6 linked regions of the Homo sapiens genome follow. Changing the gene in region 6 together with the main gene of any one other region gives a genetic interaction. Each region holds a gene or a part of one and is shown on either strand. Other genes may lie near its edges.

The links.
Region 1: changes in OPA1 (region 6) and APOOL together harm fitness more than expected from each alone (negative genetic interaction), as found in Homo sapiens cells (one large-scale study listed by BioGRID).
Region 2: changes in OPA1 (region 6) and TIMM23B together harm fitness more than expected from each alone (negative genetic interaction), as found in Homo sapiens cells (one large-scale study listed by BioGRID).
Region 3: changes in OPA1 (region 6) and XRN2 together harm fitness less than expected from each alone (positive genetic interaction), as found in Homo sapiens cells (one large-scale study listed by BioGRID).
Region 4: changes in OPA1 (region 6) and MBTPS2 together harm fitness less than expected from each alone (positive genetic interaction), as found in Homo sapiens cells (one large-scale study listed by BioGRID).
Region 5: changes in OPA1 (region 6) and PITRM1 together harm fitness more than expected from each alone (negative genetic interaction), as found in Homo sapiens cells (one large-scale study listed by BioGRID).

The regions. Positions count from the first base shown.
Region 1 is NC_000023.11:85,048,407-85,053,182, reverse strand, and holds part of APOOL (MICOS complex subunit MIC27 precursor), read right to left. Parts: intron 1,795-4,776; coding exon 1,675-1,794; intron 1-1,674. UniProt on the Homo sapiens protein: Component of the MICOS complex, a large protein complex of the mitochondrial inner membrane that plays crucial roles in the maintenance of crista junctions, inner membrane architecture, and formation of contact sites to the outer membrane.
Region 2 is NC_000010.11:49,939,606-49,944,883, forward strand, and holds the start of TIMM23B (mitochondrial import inner membrane translocase subunit Tim23B), read left to right. Parts: upstream 1-2,447; 5' UTR 2,448-2,589; coding exon 2,590-2,695; intron 2,696-3,629; exon of another isoform or gene 3,630-3,753; intron 3,754-5,278. Other genes in the region: PARG (poly(ADP-ribose) glycohydrolase), read right to left, coding at 1,904-2,120. UniProt on the Homo sapiens protein: May participate in the translocation of transit peptide-containing proteins across the mitochondrial inner membrane. the PAM complex.
Region 3 is NC_000020.11:21,386,351-21,391,124, forward strand, and holds the end of XRN2 (5'-3' exoribonuclease 2), read left to right. Parts: intron 1-517; coding exon 518-656; intron 657-2,922; coding exon 2,923-2,988; 3' UTR 2,989-3,475; downstream 3,476-4,774. UniProt on the Homo sapiens protein: Possesses 5'->3' exoribonuclease activity. May promote the termination of transcription by RNA polymerase II.
Region 4 is NC_000023.11:21,838,264-21,842,416, reverse strand, and holds the start of MBTPS2 (membrane-bound transcription factor site-2 protease), read right to left. Parts: upstream 2,801-4,153; 5' UTR 2,683-2,800; coding exon 2,608-2,682; intron 1-2,607. UniProt on the Homo sapiens protein: Zinc metalloprotease that mediates intramembrane proteolysis of proteins such as ATF6, ATF6B, SREBF1/SREBP1 and SREBF2/SREBP2.
Region 5 is NC_000010.11:3,158,645-3,163,420, reverse strand, and holds part of PITRM1 (presequence protease, mitochondrial isoform 2 precursor), read left to right. Parts: intron 1-3,090; coding exon 3,091-3,217; intron 3,218-3,484; coding exon 3,485-3,573; intron 3,574-4,378; coding exon 4,379-4,507; intron 4,508-4,776. UniProt on the Homo sapiens protein: Metalloendopeptidase of the mitochondrial matrix that functions in peptide cleavage and degradation rather than in protein processing. Has an ATP-independent activity. Specifically cleaves peptides in the range of 5 to 65 residues.
Region 6 is NC_000003.12:193,595,530-193,600,305, forward strand, and holds part of OPA1 (dynamin-like GTPase OPA1, mitochondrial), read left to right. Parts: intron 1-4,776. UniProt on the Homo sapiens protein: Dynamin-related GTPase that is essential for normal mitochondrial morphology by mediating fusion of the mitochondrial inner membranes, regulating cristae morphology and maintaining respiratory chain function.

The sequences.
Region 1 (4,776 bases), on a different chromosome or scaffold from region 6:
ATTTTTACCACATGGGGTCAGTGCTACCTAAATTTCAAAACACTAAGCTAGCAGGAGTAGAAATTGAATTTGCTCTACATGATTCAAGCTTTAATGTGGAACGAATTTGAGTCAGACATAATTTTTAAAGAATGGATTACATTTTTAGGGGAAAATTAGGAAAAAAAATTGTTTACATTTAGGACAAAATGCACTGGAAATTGCCTTTCTTCAACCTATTTGTTTGAGCATATTAATGGAATAAAACATTCTTTTGAATCTTAAATTGGATGACAGTTACAATAGCAATTTAAAGACCTCTCAGGAACATTTTATCTCACTGAAGAAAAATTTCAGAACATTATGGAAAATTACATCTCAGGAGGCTTAAGTCTGAATCATCTAGCTATTGGCACATAGTCATAGGGGCATGATTCAGACCATAATTGGTTAAGGTATTTCCCTCTTAGATCAAACTATTAATAGTGTGTAGTACAACTAGTACCATAAGAATTGTATGACAAACACAAGTTTTCAAAAATAACATCATGTACTTATCAGATATTTGAAATATTATCTGGAATTACCAGAGTTCATTGATTTGGTATTTCACCTAAGCACAAATTATTTTTCATAAGTTCATTAGATTTCTTTTTAAAGATAATGGATAGAAACTAAAAAGAACAATGATTCACCATCAGGCTATATTTGGGGAAAAGTCGCATGGTTACTAGGTTAGAATGATGAAAACACTGGTACCAACATTAAGATACTGACACTGGAGATGCTAACACAATGATGTTTATGTGATGATAATGAAACATTAGTGTTGCATCAGCTTACTCCACCACTCTGCTGATGGATATTGCTGATTGAAGGCTAAGCATTAAAGTCACGTGTATTCTACTTTGCCCAATAGCTTACTGTAGTTAGAATGGTCTTATGAGCTAACGCCAACAAGTAAATAACACTTTACTTAGCCAAAGAAGAAAATATTCAGAAGTAATCTCAGAACTTCACATAAAAAGTGAGTGACACTGTGTACATGCTAGGTGACATAAATCCTTGCTGAACTACTTTAATCTATGCAGTAGTGGTAGAGTAGGTTCAATATAGCCACAAATTATTTGCTGCTACTTCTACTGAGAGTTGGCATCTAATTCCCTTCCCTTTAAAACTGAGCTGGCCTTAGTGACTTAACAATAGAATGCTGTAGAAGTGACTTTCTTGGATATCTGATGATAGGCAAAAAGCCTGGCAAATTCTGCCTAGGGCCACTTGTAACATTGTCTTTAGGAGCCCTGAATTACCCAAGTAAGTTATATCTGACCTATTTGAGATCACCATGCTTGAGAGGCCACGTGTAGGTGTTCTAGTCAATAATCCCAGCTGAACCCAGTCATCCAGCCATCCTTAACAAGGTGCCAGAGATGCAAATAAAGCTGTCTTGGACTGTCTAGATCAGCTCATTTGCCAGATGAACCCCACTGGGCCACCTCTGTCAATGCCACATGCAACAGACAAATCACCTGTCTGAACTCAGATCAAATTCATGACTTACAAAATCATAAGATGTAATATAATGGTTGTGGTTTTAAGCCATTAAGTTTTGGATTAGTTTTCTACACATCAGTAGGTAACTGGAACAATTAATCAGAAATCTCTGATATTAAACCACTATCAGAATTGACTTACCTTGCACCAGCCAATGTAACAACCAGTTGCAGTGCGGATGGAAGCAAAGCCCATTTGTAAATGACCAGGCTGCTCTTCAACATATTTAGACTGGAGCGGTGGTGCAGTATATATGGGGAGCTACAGGCAAAAAATGTTCATGTCAAAAACATAAAATAGCTGGACTGTCCATAACAGCGGTATGGCAGAACAGGAATCCTCATCAGCCTTCTTTCTAAAAACAACTAAAAATGCTGATAAAATACTTTTAAAAAACCATCTTAAATACAGGAATGATGTGGTAAACTGTTTATAAAGACCGTTTAAAACCCAGAAATTAAAAGATGCCAAATATAATATAATCCAATGGTTCTACTCCTATGTATATTTAGAGAAACTACTGTCTTTGCACACCCAGAGTTAGTATAATAACGTTCACAGCAACATTTTAATTACAACCAACCCAATGTCCATCCACAGTAAAATGGATCCTTTGGGGTATATTCGTACAAAGAAATATTAGAAATTAGGGGGTAAATATAAAAATTACAGCAACATGGAAAAATTTGGATGAATTTCAGGAATATAAGGTTACTTAAAAAAAACATTGCTTAGCAATACAGACATATAAGGTAAAATTAAAAAGTAAAGGAGGGGAATAATAGTAAAAATTCAGGGTAATGGTAACCTCTGAATGGAATGAAATGGAAACACAGAGGATTTTGTTTTCCTTTAAATTGGGTGCTAGGTATACGGTTGTACATCATTATCATCATCATATTATTATTCATACCTTTCATATTTTGAACAGCCTTTTGATTCTAATTAGTATTTAATAAAAACAAACATACACAAAAGAACAATGAAAAACTTAACCAGGTAGGGACTTACTTCCTTTAAAAAAAAATTTTTTTTTTTTTTTTGCTTTTATATTTAGGGTATAAATCCTCCTATGAAGCCTGGTGTTTGAGGAAGATAGAACTGGGAAGAATCAAGTTTACAAATCAACATCAAGGGAACTAGATGATTAATGACTTTGGATTTGCTCCTCTACCAACAACAAACATGAAACTATAGTTAACACTATATTGTTTTCTTGAAAAATGCTAAGAGTGGGTATAAAATGTCCTCAACACAAAAATGATAACTATTCAAGGTAATACATATGTAAATTAGACAGATTTAGTCATTCCACAATGTATATATACTTCAAAGCATCATGCTGTACAAGGTAAATGCATACAATTTTATGTCAGTTTTTTTATCTAAAGTTAAAAAATAAATAAAACATAAGACAGTGTGAGTTTGGTAAAGCTTTTCCAGTAGTAAGTCAGAAAAGTCTTGTTTTACCATTAAATGACTCTTTACTACCCATACCAGGATTAAAGAGTTAGTGTTTTATCTTTCTGGACTAATGCTTAAATTCACCACATTGGCAACTATGTATAATTAGGAAGGTGAGAGATGCATATCTTATTAAAGATGCGTTTTATATATAAAAAGCAGGTGCACTGCAAATAGGCAAGTTTCCTCTCTCCCCTAGAAAGGAGAGGTATATGTGGATGTACTGGTGTCAGAGTGGGCAACGTTATTTACTTACATGTTTGTCCATCATGTTTCTATCCTCTTTATTATTTACACATCCCAATTCCAAACTTTATTACACTCATTGTTCTTATTCTCTCTCCTCTGTCCCCATCAAAACCTGCTGATTAAGTTGTTTTTTGTTTGTTTGTTTGTTTTTTGAGACGGTCTTGTTTTGTCATCCAGTCTAGAGTACAGTGGCATGAACACAGCTCACTGTAGCCTCAACCTCCCGGGCTCAAGCAATCCTCTCACCTCAGCATCCCGAGTAGCTGGGACTACAGGCACACCCCCAACAAACCCGGCTAATTTTTGTATTTTTTTTGTAGAGATGGGGTTTCACCCTGTTGCCCAGACTGGTCTCCAATTCTTGAGCTCAAGCAATCCGCCCGCCTTGGCATCCTAAAGTGCTGGGATTACAAGCATGAGGCACTGCGCCTCACGGGTTCAGGTTCTTTATCTGTTTGTTGCCTATTATAAACAAAATTTTGTATATGTAGTTTTCTAGGAAGAGCATTCAAAGTTTTTATCAGACTCTCAAAGGGGTCAGAATGGTTAAGAACCAGTGTTTTAAAGTATTTTCCTTCTAAGGCATAGGCATAGTTGAAACGTTTATGATGATAGGATTTCAGCTCTACTTTAAGAATTTTAAGAGCTAGCCAGTAGCATGTTACTATAGCCTCCATTGAGAAAAGCATTCTCACTACAAATTTTAGAGACCTTGGGGCTTAAATGCCACTTATTGTATAGATAGAACTTGTATGTTCTCATTTAGAAATTATGATTACATTGAGTAAGCTATAAAACCACATTTAAAATTAAATTGAACCAAAGTAACTAAAACTCTCAAATCAGTATTTTTCTGTTATTTCTCAGTGACAACAAGCAAATGGCAAGAAAATAAGTATAATTCATCTCATAGAGGGATTTTAAAAAGAAATGTCCAGGGATGTCTAGGGCTGGCTGTATACATGCATTCCAATTGCCAGTCATTTTACTGATCTGAATACTACAGATTTCATGGTTAAAAAAAATGATTGTCTCATGGTGCTACAGAGTTTTCTATTAAAGGGAGATTTAATTATGTTCACTAGATGGCATATAAGGCAGGAATATATTGAGAATATTTAAAAAGATGTTTAGTGAGAAGAGTTGAACTAAAACAGATTTTCTGTTTAGCTGCAAGTTTACCAAAAGATTCAAACAACCAAATAACCAGAACACTTCATTCATAAAGTATTCTGGTTTAGTAGAAGTGTTATTACAGATTTAAACAGAAGTATAGCTCACTTTACACAATAAAAGTAGCTAGAAATGTTGCGCATAAATCACATTTTAATCCCTTCAGAAATTCTACATTCCTCAAGGACTAGATCCTGACTTTGTGTATAGTTCCTAGCACATAGCTGGCAACAAACTTTGTTTGATAAGTAATTCAATTAAATGATATTTAAAATGTACTTGGGGAATACAATAAATACCAAGGAATACTGCATATTCCATAATAAGCAGCACTACTTTATTTTAAAATTTCAAAAA
Region 2 (5,278 bases), on a different chromosome or scaffold from region 6:
TAACCACAGAATAAGGTTGAAATTCCTTAAAATGGAATTTGAGTTTCTTCATAAGCTCCTGTCTGCCACCCAGCCTCATCAGACACTCCTCTGTCATCTTATGCTCCAGTCTTACCAACTTTTGCATGTCTTATTTCCTCTGCATGTATAATTCTTTCTCCTCTTGATTTATACAGCAAATCTTCCTCATCCTTCAAGGCCTAGTGCAAGTCTACTTGGTACTGCCCCTAAGTATGAAGACATCTAAGTGTAGACTCTTCACCAGAGAACTGCCCGAGCTCTGCCCAGCCTCTTACACTGTTAACGAATGCATCCTTTTTGAAATGATCTCCTTTGTCTGACACAACACAAGCCAGGCTTTCCTCCCACCTCTACAGCCGCTTCTCTTCAGTCTACTCTTAAACTTTGGTGTTCCTAAGGCATCTGCCCTAGGTCACCTTTACTTTCTCTACATGTTTATGTTATCTATGCCCATAGCATCCATTATAATGTTTATGCCACGAACTCCCCAATCTACTTCTCCAGCACAGAAATATTTCTTCTCAAGTATCCCATTCTTTCATGAATCCATCCCCTTCCCTATTGCCAGCATCCAGGCCTAAGCTACAATTATTTCCAACCTAGATTAACTCCTTAACTGAGTCTTGATGCTCCACTTGAGTTCCTTTTCAATCCATTCTTTATTTTCCACACACCAGCCACACAGACTTTTCAACAAATAAATAAGTCTAATCAAGTCACTCCCCTACTAAAAACCCTTGAGTAGCTTATCAATGCCCTTAGAGTTCAAAATCCTTAGCAATGTCTACATATCCAATTTGATCTGACTTTTCTGTACCACCCTGCAGCCTCATCTCTCACACTCTCTTGCGTTCACTCTATATATCAATTGCACTCCTGTTTTTGTTTTGTTTTGTTTTGTTTTGTTTGAGGCGGAGTTTCGCTCTTGTTGCCCAGGCTGGAGTGCAATGGTGCCCTCTCGGCTCACTGCAACCTCCGCCTCCCGGATGCCAGCGATTCTCCTGCCTCACCTGCCTCAGCCTCCCGAGTAGCTGGGATTACAGTTGCCCGCCACCACGCTAGGCTAATTTTTTGTATTTTTAGCAGAGACGGGGTTTCACCATATTGGTAAGGCTGGTCTTGAGCTCCTGACCTCAGGTGATCCACCCGCCCCAGCCTCCCAAAGCTCAGGGATTACAGGCAAAACCACCGCGCCCGGCCTCGGTTGCACTCCTGAAACACTTCTTACTTCCTCTTCATCTAACTCCTACTCATTCTACAGTCCTCAGAATAAGCATCTCATCTTCTGGAGGACTATTTTCGATTCCATAAATTCAGTTAGGTAAAACAATCTGTCATTCATCTATCAGAACATCCATTACCTTTTATTATATTAACTTTTGCTATCGTCTATCTCTCCAGATAGATTTTAAGGTATGAAGGCAGAGGCCAAGTTTCTCTCGTTCAACACTGTATACCAGGGACGGGTACAATGCCAGCTTAAACTAATAGCTCTGCACCCTGGGACCCAGAATCTGAACAAGTGAAGTTGTTTTCTTCCTATCTAGAGGCTGAAGCGCCCTACTGTTTTACATACACAATTAGATCTCCTTGACGACTAAGGCAATTTCTCAATCAAACCTGAAGAAGCAAACAGGTGGTGGAGTCTCCTGCCATTTTCCGCCCTGTGAGTGACTGCTCATCAGAGTTTCTCACATCAATCGCACTGGGAAAAATGCGGCCCCATTCACCCACTAGTGGCTTTGGTAGCTCAGCAAGTGGACCTCAAGAGTGACGATGCACACAAGACCAGAAAGGAGTGACTGGAGCCCCTGGGTCCTCAGACTGAGACCAGAAGGTTCGGGCCGAGGCGAAGGACAAAGATTTTTATTTTCCCACGTACCAAGCGAGGTGGCGCTGCCTCTGTGCTGTCCCGCCCGCCCTGGGACGCAGGCTGGCGAGGACGGTGGGACCCTGAACTGCACGTGAGCGTCCTTGGGGTCGAGGACGCGCCTCTGCCTGCTGGGAAAGCTCCGGGCGTCCGAAGCAGCCGGCGAAGTTGTAGCGGCGCCCCAGCGGGGTCGCTTGGTGCAGGGTTCACAGCCGGGGCCCGCATTCATGCTGGGACCAGCAGCGCACTGTCCCCGGGCCGGCCCGGGCGGAGAGCCTCATTCACTAACCCTGAGAGAGATGGACTGCGCCTCCTTCTCAGCGCCTGCCTGCACCATTCCCTCTCTGCCGCTGCCTGCTTCTGCAATTGCTGATCCGCCGGCCTCCCAAGTCAGGCCGTAAACACTCGCCTGCCTTCCCTCTTCCACTGGCACCCCACCTGCCTCAATGCGCCGCTTTGATTCGGGATTCGTTCACTTTCCCACCACCGGAAAGCTGCCGTCAGGCGCTTCCGGCTTCCGGGGCGCACACTGCCGCAAAGCGGAAGTGTGGCGCTTAACGGGAACCGGCGCCCGGAATGTCAGCGTGTGAAGTAGGCGCTGGCAACGCGGGGTTACCCGCTGTTATTGAGGAGTAACGGCCCAGCGGACCACCCAGGCTTGAGGCAGCGGCGGGAACCACTCGGTTTGCTGCGATACCATGGAAGGAGGCGGGGGAAGCGGCGACAAAACCACAGGGGTATTGGCCGGCTTTTTCGGAGCCGGCGAAGCAGGTTACTCGCACGCGGATTTGGCTGGCGTCCCGCGTAAGTATGGGGCCTAGCTTGCGATTATTTCTGACTGGTTCTTGCGTTTACACTAAAGTTGCGCGTCCCATGTTTTATGTTGTTGGTTTTTTTTTCCTTGCTGGCGTTTACAAGCTTAAGTACCAGTGGTGGGGTTAGTGTATCTGCATGGCTGCTCTTTCAAGATAGAAAGGCCTAAAAAAGGGCCACGGATCTCCTGGGGAAGCTGTCCGTGATTGACCTGGACTCGCGAGATGATGCATGTTTTCTTAGGTTTATATCCAAGCCTCGTACGTTTTGTGTGTGGTGGGCCGTGTGATTGACCCTTAAGAGTAGAGCCCAGCTTTGGGAGTAAATGTATTCCAAATAGCAAGCCCGTAGTTAACTTTTTAGTACACAGTGACATATTCTGAGCCTCCAAGTAGCCGTAAGGGCAGAATATTCAGTAATATTGCATGTAAGTGAGAAATAAATATGACTTGGGACAGGCTAGGAAACCTTCTTTAGGAGCTAGGAAGTAAGCTGAACTTTAAAGGTGATATATAGACATGAAGAAAGAAGCCAGGTAAGAATTATAGGAAAGGAAATAGGCAACATCAAGGTATACAGAGGCATAAATATCTTGCCTTTGCCTCTCCTCGGTCTTGTGAATATGTTTTCCAGAACTTTGGTACTTTGTAACTGTGGTTGTTCAACTAGATAAATAGAACTTGGACCTAAAGATAGGCAGTTGGTCGTGGATAAAGCCTTTACGAAAGTACTTTCTTTTTAGAGAATCCTTGTAATATTTCTCTAGGTATTTTATACTAAGGAACAACAACAACGAAATATGTTCAGACTGACTCTAGTGCAAAAAAATATAAAAGACCTTTCATTTCCCTGGTGTCACCTTTGTCAAAAAACTGAATCTACAACACATGGTGTTTTGTTTCGTTTTTTTTTTGTTTGTTTTTAGAGTCAGGACCTCGTTCTGTCACCCATGTTGGGGTGCGGTGGCATGATTATAGTTCACTGAAGCCTGGCACTCCTGAGCTCAAACAATCCTCCCCTCTAAGCCTCCTAAGTAGCTGGGAATCTAGGTACGTACCACCACACCTGGCTAATTTTTAAAATTTTTTTTTTGACTTATTGTGGAGATGGGGTCTCCCTGTGTTGTCCAAGCTGGTCTCAAACTCTCGAACTCAGGCCATCCTCCTGTCTCGGCCTCCCAAAATGCTGGGATTCCTAGGCCTGAGCTACTACTTTACCTGTTTAGAACACAGTTTCATATTAATCTTAGTATTTCTGAGTTTCAGAGCACAAAGGGCATATACACTTCCTTAATGTGACAATATTGTTAAATTAATTTGATTAAGATTTGAAGGTAAATTGGGGGACCAGGGAATGAACACCATTTACTGAGCTTTTACAGTGTGCTAGCTACTTTTCTGGGGGCAGGACTATAGTGGTTTTTGTGGGTTTTTTTTTTTTTTTTTTTTTTTGAAAAGAGGACCCTTGCGCTCACAGAGCTTACATAATACTGAGGTAAACCAACAAACATAAATTAAAACATTGCCTTTAGTGATAAGTGCTGTAAAGGGAATAAAGCAGAGTCATGAGATTGTGATGGAAGCAGGATGCCATTTTAGAGCGGATTAGGGAAAACATCTCAAGGGAGTTGACATTTGAGCTGTGACCCAAATACAGTACAAATGCTTGGGAGGCAAGTATCCAGGAAAATAGCTAGTGCAAATGTCCTGAAACAAAACAAATTTGGCATGTTTAAGGAACAGCTCTTAGGCCAGTCTGTCTTCGTAGTTACAAGGGAGTTGGATCAATTGAAGCTTGTGAAATCAGAGAGGTAGGGAATGACAGCTAATGTAGGATTTTGTAAGTTATGGTAAGGAGTTTCGATTTTCTTAAGAAAAATCACGTAGTTGCTATGTAGACAGTGAATTGAAGGGGTAAGAGAAAGCAAGGAGTTAGGAAATTGTTGCTGTGAGATATGATGGTTGGACTAGGATGGTAGCAATAGAGAAGATAAGTAACACAATTCAAAATGGGTATTAAAAATAGAACAAGCAGGACTCCTAATTGATGAAAAGATAGAGGCATGGGTGATGCATAGGTTTGTAAATAACTGCTGAGATACAGAAGGATCCAAAGATGATAGGTTTTACTGTTTTCAATGTTAGTGAATTCAGGTCTGGCCCTCTCAAAGTTTGTGTTTTCTTTTGCACAGACCCACATACCTGTGGTAATGACCCAAGGATTCTCAACCTTGCCACAGTAAATCAATCGTTAATAGTAATATGTGAAGGAACTGCCTTGAAATAGTTAGATACAACATGTACACAGTCAGAAAACCCAACCCAACCACTGTTTTTCCCATGGAATTGATTAGTCTTTTCTCAGTCTTATTTTGTAATTTATATAGTCACCAAGCATTCTTGTAGTAAAGTGAAAGAAATTAGCTTTGTAAATGGCCTGGACTACACTTCCTGTAAGTTCAAAAATCAGATCTATGACACTGCGATTATCTTATTGGTGTAAAAGCCTGAGCCACCAGTGGAAGACCTGGTTTGGGATTGAGGGTCTCAGGATGAGTCAGCCCCCAAACTGACA
Region 3 (4,774 bases), on a different chromosome or scaffold from region 6:
TGAACAGAATAATGGATGGGAAAAAACAGCCAAGTCTCCTACCCTGGATTCAAAATACTCAGCAGTAAGAATTCATTTGCAACCTGCAATTAAGTAGAAAGAATGGATCCAAGAACGAGTCTGGACATTTTTGAAAATAAAGCCTCATTCTCCTGTCTTGTACATGTTTACTCTTTGGATAGCATCTTAAATGTAGCCATCTTGGTGATCTTGGGTCTACATCTTTAAGTGACTAAAAAGGAAATTTCCCAATTGAAAATGAACAAAATAACTTTTAAAAGTCAGAACTTCTCAGTTGAGTTTAAACATCCATTGTAATAAATGCTGATGCTTCATGAAACATGTTAGATTATACTGGATATAAGGGACACAAAGGCCATTCTGATACTCTGTATCCCATATGATAAATCCAGGTAAATTGGATTGTACTAAAATTTGGAGATGATACCTGCCGATTTTAGGCTTTGTGCTGTATAATAGGTGTGGCTTCTGATGTAAAACTGGTACTTTCCTACAGAGGCGTTGGGGCTGAACCTCTGCTCCCATGGAACCGGATGCTGCAAACCCAGAATGCAGCCTTCCAGCCAAACCAGTACCAGATGCTAGCTGGGCCTGGTGGGTATCCACCCAGACGAGATGATCGTGGAGGGAGACAGGTAAATGGTTGTGGGATGAAAAGTATACTGCTCACTTTATATTTCAACAAGCCTCACAGGACTCCGTATTTTCTTACCAACATTTCTGGAGAAGACACTGATAGAGTAGCTTAGAGTAGCTTGGCTGAACTTGGGTCTGTCATTAAAAATGTATATGGGTTGAGTACCTGCTTCACTAAATAGGTTATATACCTTGAAGATGCCAAAGAATTTCTAACCCAAAAGCCCTTTAAATCATAGCAGTCAGTGATAATTAGTCCAAGTATAGTCAGTCACCAAAACACATTGTTTTTCCTTTAAGGATATTGTTCTTCAATAGAACCTAGATCCCTCTTAATGGGTGATGATTTTCTGGAAGCTGGAAAGTAAGTCTGCTTTTTCAGCTGTTGTCTTTTAGAAGTCATTTTACAATGTTGTCATTTTAGAAGTCTCCTGCCTTGATTCATCTGATATCCCTCCTCATAAAAGAAATTTCTGCTTGATAATCTTCCACATATTTTTCTTCTCAATGTAAGCAGCTGTATCACTGAATGACTATCATAATTCCTAGACAAATTTAGTATATGTAAGCTTCATGTCCTTCTCTTTACAGCATCCAGTTTTAGCAGCATTTAAGACTGAGGTCTATTTGACATAATTTCCTCCAGCAATTTGACACCCTGGCCAGTATTTACATGCTCTTAATGGAATCCTTACTAGAGAACAAGATTAGAATGCTGTGATTCAGAGTAATGTGTATGGAGTTTGGCACCTGCAGTGATGTGAAGTGGTTTTTAAATTGCTTACCTGGTGTTGCCTCCAGGCCTTTTGCAGTGCTTCACATATTAATTAGTAAGACCTCTCTTCTCACAGCTAAGGAACATATTTTGTATGTTTTTTGATGTATTCTTACAAGTATCTCCACCTTACAAGAAGATAATCACCTTAATTGCAAATAATTTCTTCTGAGATTTTGTTACAGTTTATTTGAATCAGTTTATCGAATTTTGCTTTGAATTCTTTCAGCCCAGGACCTCTAAAAATCGTGTCAGTGAACTAAGGCTCTTTATGTTACTATGGTTAGATGGCACTAGGCCGTTTCAGTGATGAGCATTTTTGAAGTGAGGACTATTTGTAACTGGAAGAAACCTTGGAGAATGTGTAGTCTAGTCACCTCATTTTCCAAGTCAGGAACTGAAACCCTGAAAACCCCACACGGTTCAGCAGGAGAACTGGTAGCTGGCTGCCTAGACTGCTGACCCCAGTTCATCCATTTTCCTCTCTCCTTTGGAGATCTTCCTTTTAAAGGAACTCTGTGCTGTTACAGGAGGTAAAATTCTTATTTACTTAGAAGATATAAACCAATTGGTAAATTTATTATTCTTTTAGGACTTTTTGAAAATAACATTTCTTCTTTCTCAGTCCCTTTGCCAGGGAGATACTTTTTATTAAATCACAATTGTTGAAGCACTATTAAATTGCAGAAGTTTGTTGTTAAAAACATAGAATCATTACTTCATTGTATTTTTAGTAAAGTTTTATATGACCAAACAAGGCCTTAGCCTGCATTCTGGCCTTGAGTCTGCACATGTTCATGTTTAAAGTACTGAAGTGCTCTCTGGGTGGCAAAATGAGGTGGGAGGGGGTTCCATTTCAAAACCCTAGAGGCCTAGGAAAGGACTTATAATGAAGAGGTGTCAGGTTTATCTTTTGTTATACAGAAATGTTATTTGCAAACATACTAGGATATGTTATAAAGGTCACGGCTAATGGATTGTGTAATAACCTTAATATGTCATTTAAAGCCCTACTATTTGTTGCTAAATAAAAAATCCCTAAAATCAATTGCTCATTTGGCCTTAACTGACTTAGCAAGCTCTTGCCTTGGTTAAAGCAAAGTTACTTTCCTTGTGTAATAAGTCTAAATTGATGTGGGTATCTTACCACAAAGTGACTTGAATTACTACTGCTAGGACAGTGAGAAAATTGAGAACCACTGTCTGTACATGTTGTTTACACAGAACACTTTAGTTATTTGTGTGCATTTGTGATTGTTAAGGTTTTTTGTTTTATTTTTCAGTAATAGCATTTGTGCTAGCCTCCAACTTTGCAACAAGTCTGTATTAAAGCTCTGGATCAAAGCACCTTTTATGGGGCCTTTCCATGTGCTGTACCTTTAACACATACTCAGTTTCCTTATGATGTGTTTTTCCATAGAGGTTTAAAGTTAACTGACTTGCAGGAGTATCGGTCCAGAAAATAAACTCTTTCTTTTGTTTATTTTCAGGGATATCCCAGAGAAGGAAGGAAATACCCTTTGCCACCACCCTCAGGAAGATACAATTGGAATTAAGCTTTTGTAAAGCTTTCCCAAATCCTTTCATCATTCTACAGTTTTATGCTATTTGTGGAAAGATTTCTTTCTCAAGTAGTAGTTTTTAATAAAACTACAGTACTTTGTGTATTTCTTTTAACTGTGTATATTTCTACTGATCTGATCTCACTGTTTATGTTGCTTTCCAAAGATGTATGTTGCATAATACAGTGGATCTGAATTTATTATTGCTTATAAAACACATTTGATGGAATAGGAGTACTGGTTTTTCATAATGGTTAAAAATGAAACCAGCTGTGGATTTCAAAACACAGTGTATTCTAGATCATCTAAGATCCATGCTGATTTTTATTGCACAAGAATTAGGTTTGAACTCGAGCTGGAACCTCAGCAAACTAGAGTATATATTGTTCAGTATTTCTTTGGAAACATTTCATTAATGTACTTGTCTTACAGAAATTTCTGAACTTTAGTAAAAAAAAATAAAGTTAAACTTTTAAAACTCTGTTTTGTGTTGTTATTTTGCAGTATTTCAACTTTGAAAATCTTGACCAAGCGTGGTTTTTTAAAATTAACTTTTGCAGAAAACTATTTCTGTAATCAGATGTCCAAACCAAAGGACAAAGAAGTCAATGAAGAAGTAGATTTTAAAAGATAGGGTCAGCAAGACATAACAAAAGCTTTAACTTTGTTGTATTATGTCAGTGACTGATCTGGCTAACTCAGAAATCTTTGTGAGATAAATTACATTTTTACAAATTTAATGTAGACTTCTCCAGTTTTAAGGACTTGTTTTAAATCTTCAAGTTGACAATTTTAATTAATGGCCAAATAGTCTATGCTCCTTAGCATATTTTTGTATGTCATTAGATTGCAATTTGTACTCATGTTTTTCCTTGCTACTAAGTACACTATAAATTGCTTAAATGTGTGTTTGGAGTTCACATACAGCACTTACATATGCATTTTCATTTGATTGCCAAAACATATTTAGACACACATACAGAGACTATTGCTTTGTTTCAGTTTTTCCCTCCTAGCCCAAGATTGTGAGGTAAAGCTTCTCTTTGACCTCCTGACTTAGGATATTTTTGCTTTAATATTCAACTGAAGCACGCTTGTTAAACTTAGTCTGTGGGAAAAAAAAAAATCTCACCTCAACCTTGAATAGGAAGGTATTTTGTAGCTATTGAGTTCATTGCTAATGATGGGTGACCAGAGCAGGATCCTTTATTGTTGAGACAAAGAGTCTCTCCATCAGGAATTACCAACCCAACCCTTACATAATTGCCTTCGCTCAACATTCAAGTGATAATGCCTTCTATTAAATTTCTCTGTAAGTTTATCTCCCAAATATTAAAAATGTAGACAGCCATCTCAGTAAAGCATTGCATATTCTAAAGGAGCTTATAAATGTTTTACTGTTTATAGTTCATAGTCAAAACCCACAATTCCACTCTTTATATTCTCAGACCTTTAGTTTTGGCTTAGTTTTAAGCTGGCCTGAGACTGACTCAGTTTTTGACTGAATGTTTAAAGCACTGTTTGGAAGACATCTGAGCAAAAGGCCTGATGGAGAAACTGATGACGGCAGATTTCCTCTGCAGAACTGGCAGGTGTTCCCTCGCTGAGCCGGCTTCAGGCCCTGCTCCGTGACCTCACCCTTGCTTCTTCCTCTCCATCCTTAGTCTTCATCTCTTTCCAACTTGGTTCCGCGTTTGAATCTTCCAGGAAAATGCCCTGCCCATTTCAATCAGCAAAATGCTTTTCAGAGCTTTAATGTTTAAAGCTGTAAATATCTCCT
Region 4 (4,153 bases), on a different chromosome or scaffold from region 6:
GAAGGGACAGTTGCGATCAGTGTTTGCTTTCTTCTTCTGAGCAACAACTCTAAGAAGTTAGGCCAACCTCGATCATGTAAAAAGTAAAAAACTTATCTAAAGCCATCTTGGGCTCAATAATGTCCCTTAAATTCTCTGGGGTTGTGGGGATAGGGGCTTATACACAGCCCCAACAAGAGTTTTACCTTTAGGGAAGTTTGAAGTCCTTGACTAATATAGGATTTTGGATGACATAAGGCTGTGTTATATACCTGACACAGTAAGTACAGTAAGTATTGTCATATTCATGCCCACCCATGTGAGAAACTTATCTGTCCAAGAAGGAAATCTTAGCCCTATCATAGTCTTAAAAAATGACCATAGTCTGAATATAGGTAGCTGTTTGCTTTGGATCTGTAGTATTATCTGCTCTCAGTCTTCAGGTAGTTAAATTTTAAGTGTACTTGTTTTCCAAGACTTGGAAAAGGAGTGACACAACTTCTCTAACAGATGTCTATGCAGAAATCCTAGAAAAGCCCAGGGTGGATCAGCAGACCAAGCTGGAGGCAGAGAAACTAAAGGTGCAGGCTCCTAAAAGTTGAGGTCTCTCCATTTCCCAGGCAGATACTCTGAGTAGGCGTTAGGTCTTTTGCTCAGAGGTTGGTGCATTCTTAAGGAGCTAGGGGTTGTTACTGAAACCAGTGACATCTTGGTCACCTCACACACTTGTGACTAGGGACTGTAAAAGTTCTTTTTATTTTAGATTTTTTTCACATATGCAACATGAAGAAATCATGTGGCTTTGTGTGTGTGTCTTACTATGTTGCTCAGGCTGGCCTGGAACTCCTGGCCTCAAGCGATCCTCCCGCCTCTTCCTCCCAAGTAGCTGGGACTACAGGCTGCACCACCATGCCTGGCTCATGTGGCTTTTTCAAACAACAAAATCATTGTGGCCTGTATTGCTTATGACACGTTAACCACTATGCCAAGTACTTTAAATCAGTGCTTTTTCTTTTGAGACAGGGTCTTGCTCTGTCACCCAGGCCAAAGTGCAGTGGCACGATCTTGTTTCATTGTTAACCTCTGACTCTCAGACTCAAGAGATCCTCCTACCTCAGCCTCCAGAGTAGCTGGGACTACAGGCATGCACCACCATGGTTGGCTAACTTTTAAATTTTTTGTAGAGATAAAGTCTCACTATATTGCCCAGGCTGGTCTCAAACTCCTGGACTCAGGCAATCCTCCCACCTCAGCCTCCCCCAAAGTGCTGGGATTACAGGTGTGAGCCACTGTGACCGGCCACATCAGTGCTTTTCAAACACAAACAGGTGCAGAGGAGTCACCTGGGATCTTGCTAAGATGCAGATTCGGATTCCCTAGGTCAGGGGTGAGGCCTGGGATTCTGCATTTCTAACAAGCTCCGAAATGATGCAAGTGCTACTGGTCCTTGAACCTCAAGTTGAGGAGCGAGACTTTATGTGGATACACTAATGTAATTCTCTCTGTAATCTTAGGAGATCCTTACTATTATCTCTATTTAAAGATGAGAAACCAAGGCACAGATAGCAATTTTCCCAAGGTCACATTGGCTAGAAGCCCAGCCCTGGATCTAAGGACTACGCTATGTAACCTCCTGCACTTTACAAGTTTAAATGATAGAAGGAAAAGTCTCATTTCATTTTATTGTTAAAGCTAAAACATGCAATACTATGGTTTTCTATTTTAAATGGTATTCATAACATGAAGATTTTGCTATCCATAACTGGAATTTTTATTAAACACTTGAGAATTTATATGATCTTATTCCACATATATAGTTACTCTTCCCCATCCCCTACCCCCCAGTACTCAATTCCAAAAGCTTGCCTGAAGCATGTGGTCAGACGACTCTTCCTGATTTTTTGCTACCCTTCTCAAATAACTGGAAAATGGACCGTGCACCCAGGGTATCTGGTTAGTGTGAAGAAGTGGGGTGCAGCGTGTAAATCAGAATTCAAGTAGTTAGAAACTGGTTATGTAAATCCTTGCTATTTGAGTGTGCTACTTTGAAGTACACTCTGTGATCTGGCAGCATCAGTAGCACTTGGGAACTGGTTAGAAATGCAGAATTTTAGGCCTTGCCGCAGACCTGCTGAATCGGAATCTGCATTTTGACCGCAAACCAGATGATCATATGCATTTAAAAATTTGAGACTACTGATTTCAATCACGACTTGATTTAGATTCATTCCAATATCTGAGTCTCTAGAGCGTTTTGAACTTAAAAACAATAAGGGAAAGCACTGTCTTTACTAAGCAGACGTTTTCTTTTCCTCCCTGCTGCACTGCAGCTGCTGGGTCTGGCAGGGCCCCGGCCCTCCCGATCCCACCACTGGCGCCTCCCGGGCAGGACCCGAAGGCTGAAGGGCCTGCACTGCCCCGCACTGCGACAGTGGCAGCCGCGCAGGCCGCCACAACCCTCCCGCGGCCGGCAATGTTTTATTTACTCCACCGGGCCGATCCACCACGCGGACTGTCGCACGTGGGCACCGTCCAGCCCGGGAGGCGCCAGGCAGGGGAAGAGAAAAGAAGGCCTTGCGCTCCGGCCATGGGCACCGCGGGCTTGGACCTTAGGCCCAAGGCCCTCACCTTCAGCACCAAGTCGGTCAGGTAGACGACAGTCCAGCCACCCACCACCACCACCACCAGCGACACCGGAATCATGGCGGCAGCGGCGGCAGAGGAGGGAAGGCGAGCCCCGGCGTCCTCCTCCCTGCACCGCCAACAGCTGACCGCGCGCGCCTTACAGCCCCAGCATCCGCTCAGGAACCAAGCTACCGCCGGCTCCTTCCTTGCGGTGGCACGGTTTCCCACCGGACTCTTCCAGTGGGGACATACAGGAGGATTTGCTAGTACCGGAAATGGCACGGGGGCTTATTTTTGCGGGCGCTCGGGCGCTGCCGTCCAGGCAGTAGTTCGAACTCGGCATCTAGTCTTGTAGCGATTTCTTAGGCTTTGGCCCTCCCTGCTGTCTACTCTCCATTCTCGCCAGTTCTGGTCAGGGGTTTGCTGTTTCTTTTAACCCATGAGGATTTGGGGTCGTCTGAAGTAATAATCTCTCCCTCCCCGACCCTGTCATAGATATCCAGATTTAATTGTTTATCCTTTTTACTGAAGTGTAAATTTACATGTAATGAAATCATACATACAGAGCTCAATTGTCCATTTCTGTGAGTTTTGATAAATATATATATATATATATATACGTGTACCCTAATCAAAATGGAGAAAATTTCCCTCTCAGGAATTTCCTTCTTGCGTCCCTTCCTAGTCAGTAGCCCCTCCCCCTGTTCTGATTATTTTTAACTTTATGTAAATAGAAAGCAATAAGTACTCTTTGTGTCTGGCTTGTATCGTTCAACATGCTTTTTGAAATTTATCCATGTTGATTAAATTAGGCTCTTTTTTCAACCTTTTATAATATTTGAGATGGTGCTATGGTTAAAAATCAGAACTCTGAACACCTACACATTTTAACGTTAATGTATACCTGATTATATATTGAACTAGAGCAGCAGTTCTCAACCTTACCTGCACTTTAGGATCACCAAGGTCTTTTAAAATTCCCGATGCCCGTTCTGTATCCTCGACCAATTAAATCAGATGCTCAGTGGGACCCAAGCATTTATACTTTTTAAGCTCCTCAAGTCATTGCACTGTGCAGCCAAGGTTGAGAACCACTGAACTAGATAATCTCTAAGAGAAAAGAAAACTATTTATTGGGGTTTTTTTACGTTCTATTTATGTGCATCTTTAAAAGTTATTTGTTTCAACTTTTCTGGAAAAGCATCATTAGCTATAATAATGCTAATACCAAAATATTGAGAACATAATACTATCTCAAGAACAAGTATCCCAAATAAAAATGTATCCTCAACCCCCTTCCAAGTGAAAATATACAATAATACCAGAAACCTATATTACAAATATTGCTACTAATTTGCCTCATTCTCCCTGCTTTTCCTAAAGTTTTACTCACTTAGGGACATGTTTCTCCAGCTTCAAGACAGCTTATGACTGTTTTACATATCTTTGCCTATTTGTGTGTGTATGTGTTGTTATAAATTATTTCCGTTTTCTTTGGACATAGCTGGGTGTAAATTATAAAAGTTTGTATTCAAGCACCCTGTTACTC
Region 5 (4,776 bases), on a different chromosome or scaffold from region 6:
GCATGGATGGTGCCCACCTTGACACGGGGTGTGAAGCTTGAAGCCCTCTCCTTGGCACGGAGAAGTGCTCTTCCAATAGTGGATGCAGTTACTGAACCTTAATTACATCCTCACTTTCTGATACATTGCTTGTTCTTATGTCACTAATACAAGGTCATTATAATAATAATATAGTCATATATCTTATATAAAACACTAATTGTATTTACATATGAATGCTAATGTAAAAACATATTTGCAAGATTATTTTATGTAAAAATAATTATGAAAACTTGAAGCATACAGAAAAGTAGAGATACTAGAATAATGAGCCCCTAAACACTTATCATGTAATAGATATCCTTTCCCTTGCTGAAGTTTTTGGAAGTAAATTATAGACGTCATGATCATTTGCCCGTAAATGTTTGAATTTGTGACCCTAAAACGTGAGGATTTTTTCTTACATGAGCTAATGCCATTTTCAGTTTTAATAGAATAAAACATACTTTCTTAAAACTGCCTATTTCTTATTCCATATTCAGATTTTCTAGTTGGCCCCAAAGTGTTTGTTGCACGGGGTCCCACAGGTCACACCTGGTCGGCCCGGGTTTCTCCTGGGCACCCTCTAGGGGACGGCAGAGGAGTGTGCAGGCCCAGTTTCTTTCTGGCGCACTCACTTTCCAGGTGGCCTGGCTGTTCCCGCCTGGTGTTGGGTGCCATGTTCCTGTGTTTCCTGAGCACTGGAACTTAGATCCAAAGACTTAGTTTGAGTCAGGCTGTGCCTTTGTAAGCAGAGTCCCTCATGGGGAGCTCTCCATAGACGGCCACATCCTACCATCATGTGAGGTCTGCTCGCCTCCACTGGGGATCTCACACCAGCGGGGTCCATGCTGAGAGTCAGCCACTGCCTTGGGAAGATCTGCTTTTTCCCTTCAGCCACAGACCATCTGGTGGGCTTGAGTTTCTGGTGTCCTGTGATAATGAGTTCCTCATCAACCTATTAATGGTTTTCATATTCATTGAGGATTATTGCCTGAATCAATTACTTTATTAGAGTTTGCGAAGTTTTCTAGTTCTGTAACTTCTTCATTTGTTTGCTGGACTTCTTCAAAGAAGAGCTCCACATCAGCTGGGCTATCGGGTTATCTTGAAATATGGTTCTGTGGAAAAGGCAGGGCCGGCTGCTCTCCCTGGGAAGTCCAGTTTGAGGAGGAGGGGTGGTGCAGGAACTACTTTTAATGGTGACAGAAGAGGCTGTCTTGTTTTTTTTTTTTTTTTTTTTTAAAGACAGGGTCTGGTTCTGTCCCCCAGGCTGGAGTACAGTGGCATGATCTTGTCTTACTGCAGCCTCAGCCTCCTGGGCCACCTCAGCCTCCTGAGTAGCTGGGACTACAGGCGCACGCCACCATGCCCAGCTAGTGCTTATATTTTTTTGTAGAGACAGAGTCTCGCCATGTTGCCCAGGCTGGTCTTGAACTTCTGAGTTCAGTCTGCCCACCTTGACCTCCCAAAGTGCTGGGATTACAGGTGTGAGCCACTGCGCCCAACATGGAGAAGAGAGTTCTTTCTTTTCTTCTTTTTTTTTTTTTTCCCCAGTCTTGTTTTGTTTTTTAGTACCACTCTGACCTCACAGAAATATTTCTGTATATGTATATATTTGAGATTATGTGATCAGATGGAATTTATTCATTTTTATGCCCACATTTGCCCCAGCTGTGGGCCCGTTTTGGTCTAACTTCTTTGGTTTCTACGCCCCCACCCCCACCTCCCTAATGCACGCACAGCCGGGCCCTCCCTGCTCCAGAGGTTCAACTGTCTGTTTCCCCAGGGAGCTCTGATTTCTGTGGCTAATGGGGAAGGGTCTTTGGAGAGCAGCATCTGAACACTAGGGGTGGTGATTGCTCCTGGATTCTCTCAACCCCGAGTGTGTAAAATTTGTTTCTAAATTCTAGAGTGAGAAATTTCTGAAGGTTCTGTAAGATACTAGTTTCCCAAACCTTAACCATAGCTCAGGCTATATAGTAAAGAAAAAGATAAATTCTGTCATTGTAACCTTTTTCCTCTGGTTGAATAAATGTGTTATCTTTATAAACGTGTATAACCTTGAATTTGTTGCCAAAAATTGAGTTTTGTGAAATTGTCAGTTGGATTACTATATTACTGTACCTAGGGTTATAAAGTGTTTTAACAAATACCTCATTTGGTTTTTGTCACATCTAGATGAAGTTTAAAATGTAAGATCGATTTTTGGCTAGGTGTGGTGGCTCATGCCTGCAAATCCAAGCACTTACGGAGGCCAAGATGGGAGGATTGCTTGAGGCCAGGAGTTTGAGACCAGCATGGGTAACATAGAACCCACCTCTAAAACTTAAAAATTAGCCGGTCAGGCACGGTGGCTCACGCCTGTAATTCCAGCACTTTGGGAGGCTGAGACGGGTGGATCACCTGAGGTCAGGAGTTCGAGACCAGCCTAACCAACATGGTGAAACCCTATCTCTACTAAAAATACAAAAATTAGCTGGGCATGGTGGTGGGCACCTGTAATCCCAGCAACTTGGGAGGCTGAGGCAGGAGAATCTTTTAAACCTGGGAGTCGGAGGTTGCAGTGAGCTGAGATTGTGCCATTGCACTCCAGCCTGGGGGGACGGGGCGAGACTCCATCTCAAAAAAAAAAACCCCCCACCAAAACCAAGTGTGGTGGTGTAGTCCTGGTAGTCCCGGCTACTGAGGAGGCTGAGGCTGGAGGATTGCTTGAGGCTGCAGTGAGCTGTGACGGTGCCACTGCACTCCAGCAGATGCCTGAAGCCAGGAATAGCACCATGCCCTGTGAATGAACGTTGAATTTATAAATTAGGCACAGCGAGAGGTTAACAACAATAACTAATAATAAAATAGAACAATTATAACAATATACTGTAATAAGTTACATGAATTTTGGTCTCTCGAAGTACCGTGATATTTTTGGACCTTGGTTGAGTAAGGGTGACTGAAACCGAAAGGCGAGACCTTGGGTAAGGGGCACTCCTGTGCTGTGTTTCAGTGAAACAGACAGCACTTGATCTCACATCTTTTAAACTAAAACAGACTAATTATATTCCCTTAAAATTTTAGGTTCTTCACGTACGGTAATTTTCCATTAGAACAGCATCTGAAACAAATTCACGAGGAAGCACTGAGCAAATTCCAGAAAATTGAACCAAGCACCGTGGTGCCAGCTCAGACACCCTGGGACAAGCCTGTGAGTGCCCCACCGTGTTTGTGTCCTTCCTGGTAAATATGTTGACATGAGGACTTGGACTGGGTATTGATGATGGGATTTCAGATGCTGTCATGTTTGGTACAGAGTATGGGAGAGCTTTTCAAGCTGAAAGAATGGTAATTTGTTTGAAAGGAAAGTTAACTTAGTGGAAAGCCTGTTTCGCTCCATTTCGTGTATCCAGATAACCTAGAGTAGTTGACAACCGTCAGACACTGTGCCTACTCACAACGTCACGTCATTTTACAGAGGGAATTCCAGATAACATGTGGCCCGGATTCATTTGCTACAGATCCCTCTAAACAAACAACCATCAGCGTTAGCTTCCTCTTACCGGAGTAAGTATATGCTGTCAAAGCTCATACAAGACAAAAACATGAGGAAAATGTTCCTATTAGAAGGTTCGGAAGTGAGTTCTACAATTGAATGTTAATTAATATACGGTTAGGATTCAGGGGTTAAGTGGATTTTAGGAATAGAGAACAAAATGTCGAAGTTTTTAATAACATCCAAAATGGTTTTTGAGGAAAATCGTTTTTGATAGCCCTCCGGAAGAAAAGTAATTTACTTATTGTATTTCAAAGCTTTATTCCTACAGAGAAAAGACTGCCTCAGACCAGCAGGTGCTCACATTTTGAGGTCACAGGTCCCTTTGAGTGTGAGAATGGTACTATGAACATGCACCTCGGCAAAATATATCACATACAAAACTTTGTAATTCCGGTGGTTTCACGAGACTAGGTCGGAACCATGCCCGGGGGTGTTCAGGAAGGGAAGGCTTGGGCTCTGGGCCCTCCCGTGCTCAGCCTGCAGCTCCGTGGCTGGCACCTCTCCTGGCTTGTTCCTTGTCTCCTTAATGGTGCTGCCACAGTGCCTGTGATTTAAATCACGTGTGAAAAGTGCTTGGCAGGCTGTCCCATGGTGAGCATTTCGTGTGCAGTGAAGTTAATTTGATGGTTTGTGCCCCCCTTCAAAAATCCCGGTATTTAAGGAAAATTCTCTTCTGCTCATAAAATTGTTAAATGTTGAAATGCAAGAATTTCTAGAAAGATGTGTAGTGGTTTTAAATAAAATGTGCATAAGGGCCAGTAATTTTCCCTTTACTCTTTTCTTACCTCCCCGTTCCTTTTTTTTTCAATGCAGCATCACCGACACATTTGAAGCCTTCACATTAAGTCTTCTGTCTTCACTCTTGACTTCTGGGCCCAATTCTCCCTTTTACAAAGCCTTGATTGAATCTGGCCTTGGCACAGACTTTTCTCCTGATGTTGGGTGAGTTTATGATTAGATTAGATCAGTAGTTCTCATTGGTTGGGGGCAGTTTTGCTCCTCCACCTCCGCACCCTGTCCCGGCCCCACACTTGACAGTGTCTGGAACATTTTTGGATTTTTGATTGCTATAATCGGAAGATGGCGGACCAGGAAGTTGCTGAGTGTCTCATGGTACACAGGATGGCCGCCCCCATCAGGGAACTCTGGATGAGATCCTGGATCCAGTGCCAGCCATTTGTGTCCCCCCAAGGGGACATTTGTCCAAAAGA
Region 6 (4,776 bases):
TCTTCTAATGTAATTGTTTATTGCTGCTGAGAATTCTTATGACAATCTGATTTTTTCATCTTCATGATTATCTTGTTTTTCCCTTCATGGAATCTGTTAGGGTCTTGACTTTATCCTTTATCCTAAATTTCTCAAGGCTTGGACCAGGTGTGGGTTTGGTTTTGTTTTCTTTTGCTACTCATTTGACTTGGCACACTCAGTGGGCCTTTCCCTTTATCTTTCTTCATTTCTGAGACGTTTTTCTCTCTTATTTTTTATTATCTTCCTTTCATTTTTCCTGTCCTTTTTCTTTCTAGACATCTCTTAGGAGGATAGTGGTCCTCTTAGATTGATATGTTATGTCCGTGATTTCCAAAGTAAGATTTGTACTCGTCGTCTGTTAAAAGGAAAAGCATACATATACCCTATGTATATATGCACACTTTTTTATTTTTAAATTATATATGTATCTGTACTAATTATTTACATTGTAAGTCAACCCTAACATAATCTTAAAGGATAAGATACAAAACATACTGCATCTAGAAGCTTCAGTACTTTCTTCCTGAATCCCAGTAGATCCTTTTGTTCATCCCACGGGATGCATTCCGCCCCCATCCTCCCACTCCCTTTGGATACCACATTACCACAGCTCTGCATCACTTAACTTTCCTCTTATGTTTTTCACCTTTTTTTTTTTTTTTTTTTTGCATTTTATGTCCTGGGGAATTTCCTTAATTCATTTCATGGTTTTACTGTTGATTTTTTTAATATTGGCCATCGCAACTTTTCTTTTCTTTTCCTTTCCTTTCCTTTCCTTTCCTTTCCTTTTCTTTTCTTTTCTTTTCTTTTCTTAATTTTCTTTTCTTTTCTTTTCTTTTCTGTTCTTTTCTTTTCTTTTCTTTTCTTTTCTTTCACACAGGATCTTGGCGTGTTGTCCAGGCTGGCCTCGAACTCCTGGGCTCAGGTAATCCTCTCACCTTGGCCTCCCAAAATGCCAGGATTACAGGCGTGCGCCACTGCATTTGGCGGCAACTTAATTTTTTTATTTTTATTTTTCCTTTTAGAGGACACCTAGCACTGAGCATTGCAACTTTTCATTTCCATGAACTTTTAAGAAAACTCTTAAAGACATGTTTAATTCTGTACACTTTCTATTGTTCTTTGATTGCTGTTTTTGAATAACAACAAGGAGTACGCCTTAGCATTTTGATGGTATCCTCTTAATAGTCGCAATAATAGTCCCCTTGGCGCTCTGTATACTCTCAAGTCTTAAATGTTTTGTATGCAGCTGTACGTTGACAGTTGAATGGTCTCGCTCCAAGTGGATCAGCAAGAACATAAAGAATCATTTAACTGGTACAGGCTGCGGCTTGTGAATTCCCTATTAACACCAAAGAAGACGTGTGAGACTCCGTACTGAAACTAAAGACGACTTGTGAGTTCCACACTGAGATCAAATAAGTCTTTATGATGGTGACAGAGAGTGGTGTCAACGCCTAAAGTTTTGGTTAATCTCTCTAAATTGAGGGGCTGACCAAAAGGGGGAACTTAACTGTATTAGACATAATTTTGAGAAACATGGGTATGTGGATGGTAATGGAGGAAATGGGTGTAGATGAGATTGCCTAGGGAGAGTGAGAAGTAGGTTAGGTCTAAGCCTTGATGAGTTCCCAACATTTCCAAGGGTAGTTGAGGATACTGAAAATGAGTGGCCAGTGAGATAGAGGTAAAGCTAGAGACTGCCCAGGGGAGAGGAATTTTCAACAATGAGGAGGTGTCAACATTGTCAGGTATTGCTGAGAGGTCAGATAAAACCAGAATTGAGCAAAATGGCCATTGGAAGCCTATGGTGCCCTCCGTAAGAGCTGTTTCGCTGAAGTGATAGAAACGGAAATCAGGCTGGGCACAGTGGCTCACTCCTGTAATCCCAGCACTTTGGGAGGCCGAGGTGGGCGGATCACCTGAGGTTAGGAGTTCGAGACCAGCCTGGCCAACATGGTGAAACCCTGTCTCTACTAAAAATACAAAAAGTAGCCAGGTGTGGTGGCAGGTCCCTGTAATCCCAGCTACTCAGGAGGCTGAGGCAGGAGAATCGCTTGAGCCCCAGAGGCGGAGGTTGCAGTGAGCAGAGATCGAGCCACTGCACTCCAACCTGGGTGACAGAGCAAGACTCCGTTTCAAAAAAAAAAAAAAAAAAAGAAATGGAAATCAGGATGGTTTGGCTTTTATTTTAATAAAATAGCTAGAGCAGGGAAATGGGGTACTTTTTTTCCCCCTTTTAAGATGAGACATAGCCAGGTGCAGTGGCTTACACCTGTAATCCCAACACTTTGAAAGGGAGGGTCGCTTGAGCTCAGGAGTTTGAGACCAGCCTAGGCAACATAGCAAGACCTTGTCTCTACTAAAATTCAAAAAAAATTAACTGGGCATGCTGGCACACACCTCTAGTCCCAGCTATTTATGAAGCTGAGGCAGGAGGATCACACTTGAGCCCAGATACGTGGGGCTGCAGTGAGCCCTGATAATGCCATTGCACTCCACGTTGGGCAACAGAGCAAGACTTCGTCTCAAAAATAAATAAATACCCTGTCTCAAAAATAAAAAATAAATATGGGAGGAGAGATTTGACTTAGATTCCTCAAAGGGCAGGAGGAAAGAGAATTCCAAACAGTGATTCACCTTTAATGGGAGAAAGATCGCTTAATTTTACATGAGGAAGAAGAGGATTGGTGGAGATACAGTAGGTGAACAGTTTTTGTATGAGGAAGTTGAACATGTGTCATTCTAATAGCTTCCATTCTCTGTGAAGTAGAGGGCAAGGTCATCTACTGAGAGTTGGGGAGGTCAAGAGAGATAAGGGGAGATTAGAAGAGCTCTTCTAGCAGAGAGTGGAAGAATGAATTGCTAAGAGAGATGAAGTAGGATTGTTAAGTAGTTTTGAGGGCCCTGTTGAGATGTGCTTCCAGTTGGGTGTGATTTTCTCCAGTAGTGCTTTATTTCCCTGGGTACAGGCAGAGAGAAAAACAATAAGGCTCATGTAGGGTTTGTATTTTGTTGGACAAGTCAAACAGAAAAGTCAGAGGACGAGGGAGTTTAGAATGTTTGCAAAAGAGTTATTGAAACGATGAACCGCATAATCTAAGGTGGTAAGTGGGTGAATAGATAAGGAGGATGTGAATAGGTAAGGAGAAGAAAGAAATATCAGATTATTGATTATTGATGGCGACTCTCTAATACAGCTATTATGCCATTTTAACCGATTAAGAAACTAAGGCTTTAGAAAATTCATAATTTGCCCTAACTGCACAGCTAGTAAGCAGTGGAAATGTGATTGGAACCAGAGTTCTTCTGACTCAATAGACTAAATGGATGTAAGGATGTAGTTGAAAGAAGGGTGAGCTAAACGTTGTGGAACCATGAGCTCTTTCTCTGGTTGATATCCCTCTCTGTAAGTGATAACATGGGTCACGCTGGATAAAACCTTGTGGTGATTGGTGACTTTCCTTTGTCCTTCCTCCTGTGCCTAGTCTGGCGAGTATCTGCCTTTCCCTTTCCTTTCTCATTGCTGCCACCTAACTTTAGGCTCTTCCCCTTACATCTGGGTAACTGAAATAAGATCACCTTTTTGTTCCCCTTCTGATTTACTTTGACCTAACATTATCTTTACTATTTTCTTTAAATTAATGTTTCATTAGTCTTATTCTACTCAGGAACTCTGTAGTTCCCCATTGCCTACGAAAAAAAGTTAAGCCTCAGCCTTATATTCAGTGACTCTTCAATTGGATATTCAGTCCAGTTTTACTCCTCCTATGAGCCTTCTATGCCAGCTCCTTGGGTCTCTTGCCCTTTCATTGTCTCAGCTCTGCACCCTTCTTTCTCTTTTTTATTCTTTTTTTTTTTTGTACTTTTTTGGTTTTCTTTTTGGTTTCTTTTTTTGTTTTATTTATTAAACCTCCATCACACTTCATCCTATGGAGTTTTGAACCACAGCAAGGTGCAGTATCATCCTGGGGCTCTGGAGGAAGTGGCAGGGAGTCCAAAATGTCACCTTAGCTTCTTATCTGGGGCCACATGTATTTCTGCATCTGCTGCTTCCCACACTCTTGCCCACAAGTGTCGCTTGTGGAAATAATTTGAGATTTACTGTCTGGCTGACCCTAGTTTCAATCTCTTTTCCACCATTTGCTAATCATTCTACCTTGGGCAAAACATAGAATTAAAAGAAAACTTCAGACAAGTTAAATTTGATGGAGTTTAATTGAGCAAAGAAAAAAAATGATCCACAAATTGGGCAGTCTCCAGAATCACCGCAGATTCAGAGAGACTCCAGGGGTGCCTCGTGGTCAGAACAAATTTATAGACAGAAAAGGTAAAGTGACCTACAGGAATCAGAATTGAGACATAGAAACAGTGAGATTGGTTACAGCTCGGCGTTTGCCTTATTTGAACGCAGTTTGAACACTCAGCAGTCTATGAGTGGTTGAAGTATGGCCGCTGGGATTGGCCAACACTCAGCTGTTATTACAGATGCATACTACTAAGTTAGGTTTTCGATTTTGTCTGCCTATTTGAGCTAGGTTACAGTTCGTCCACAAGGACTCAAATATAAAAGTACGGAGTCCTCTTCGGGCCATATTTAGTTCGCTTTAACAATTCCCCCTTTTGGTCAGCCCCTCAATTTAGAGAGATTGACCAAAACTTTAGGCGTTGACACCACTCTCTGTCACCATCATAAAGACTTATTTGGTCTCAGTGTGGAACTCACAAGTCGTCTTTAGTTTCAGTATGGAGTCT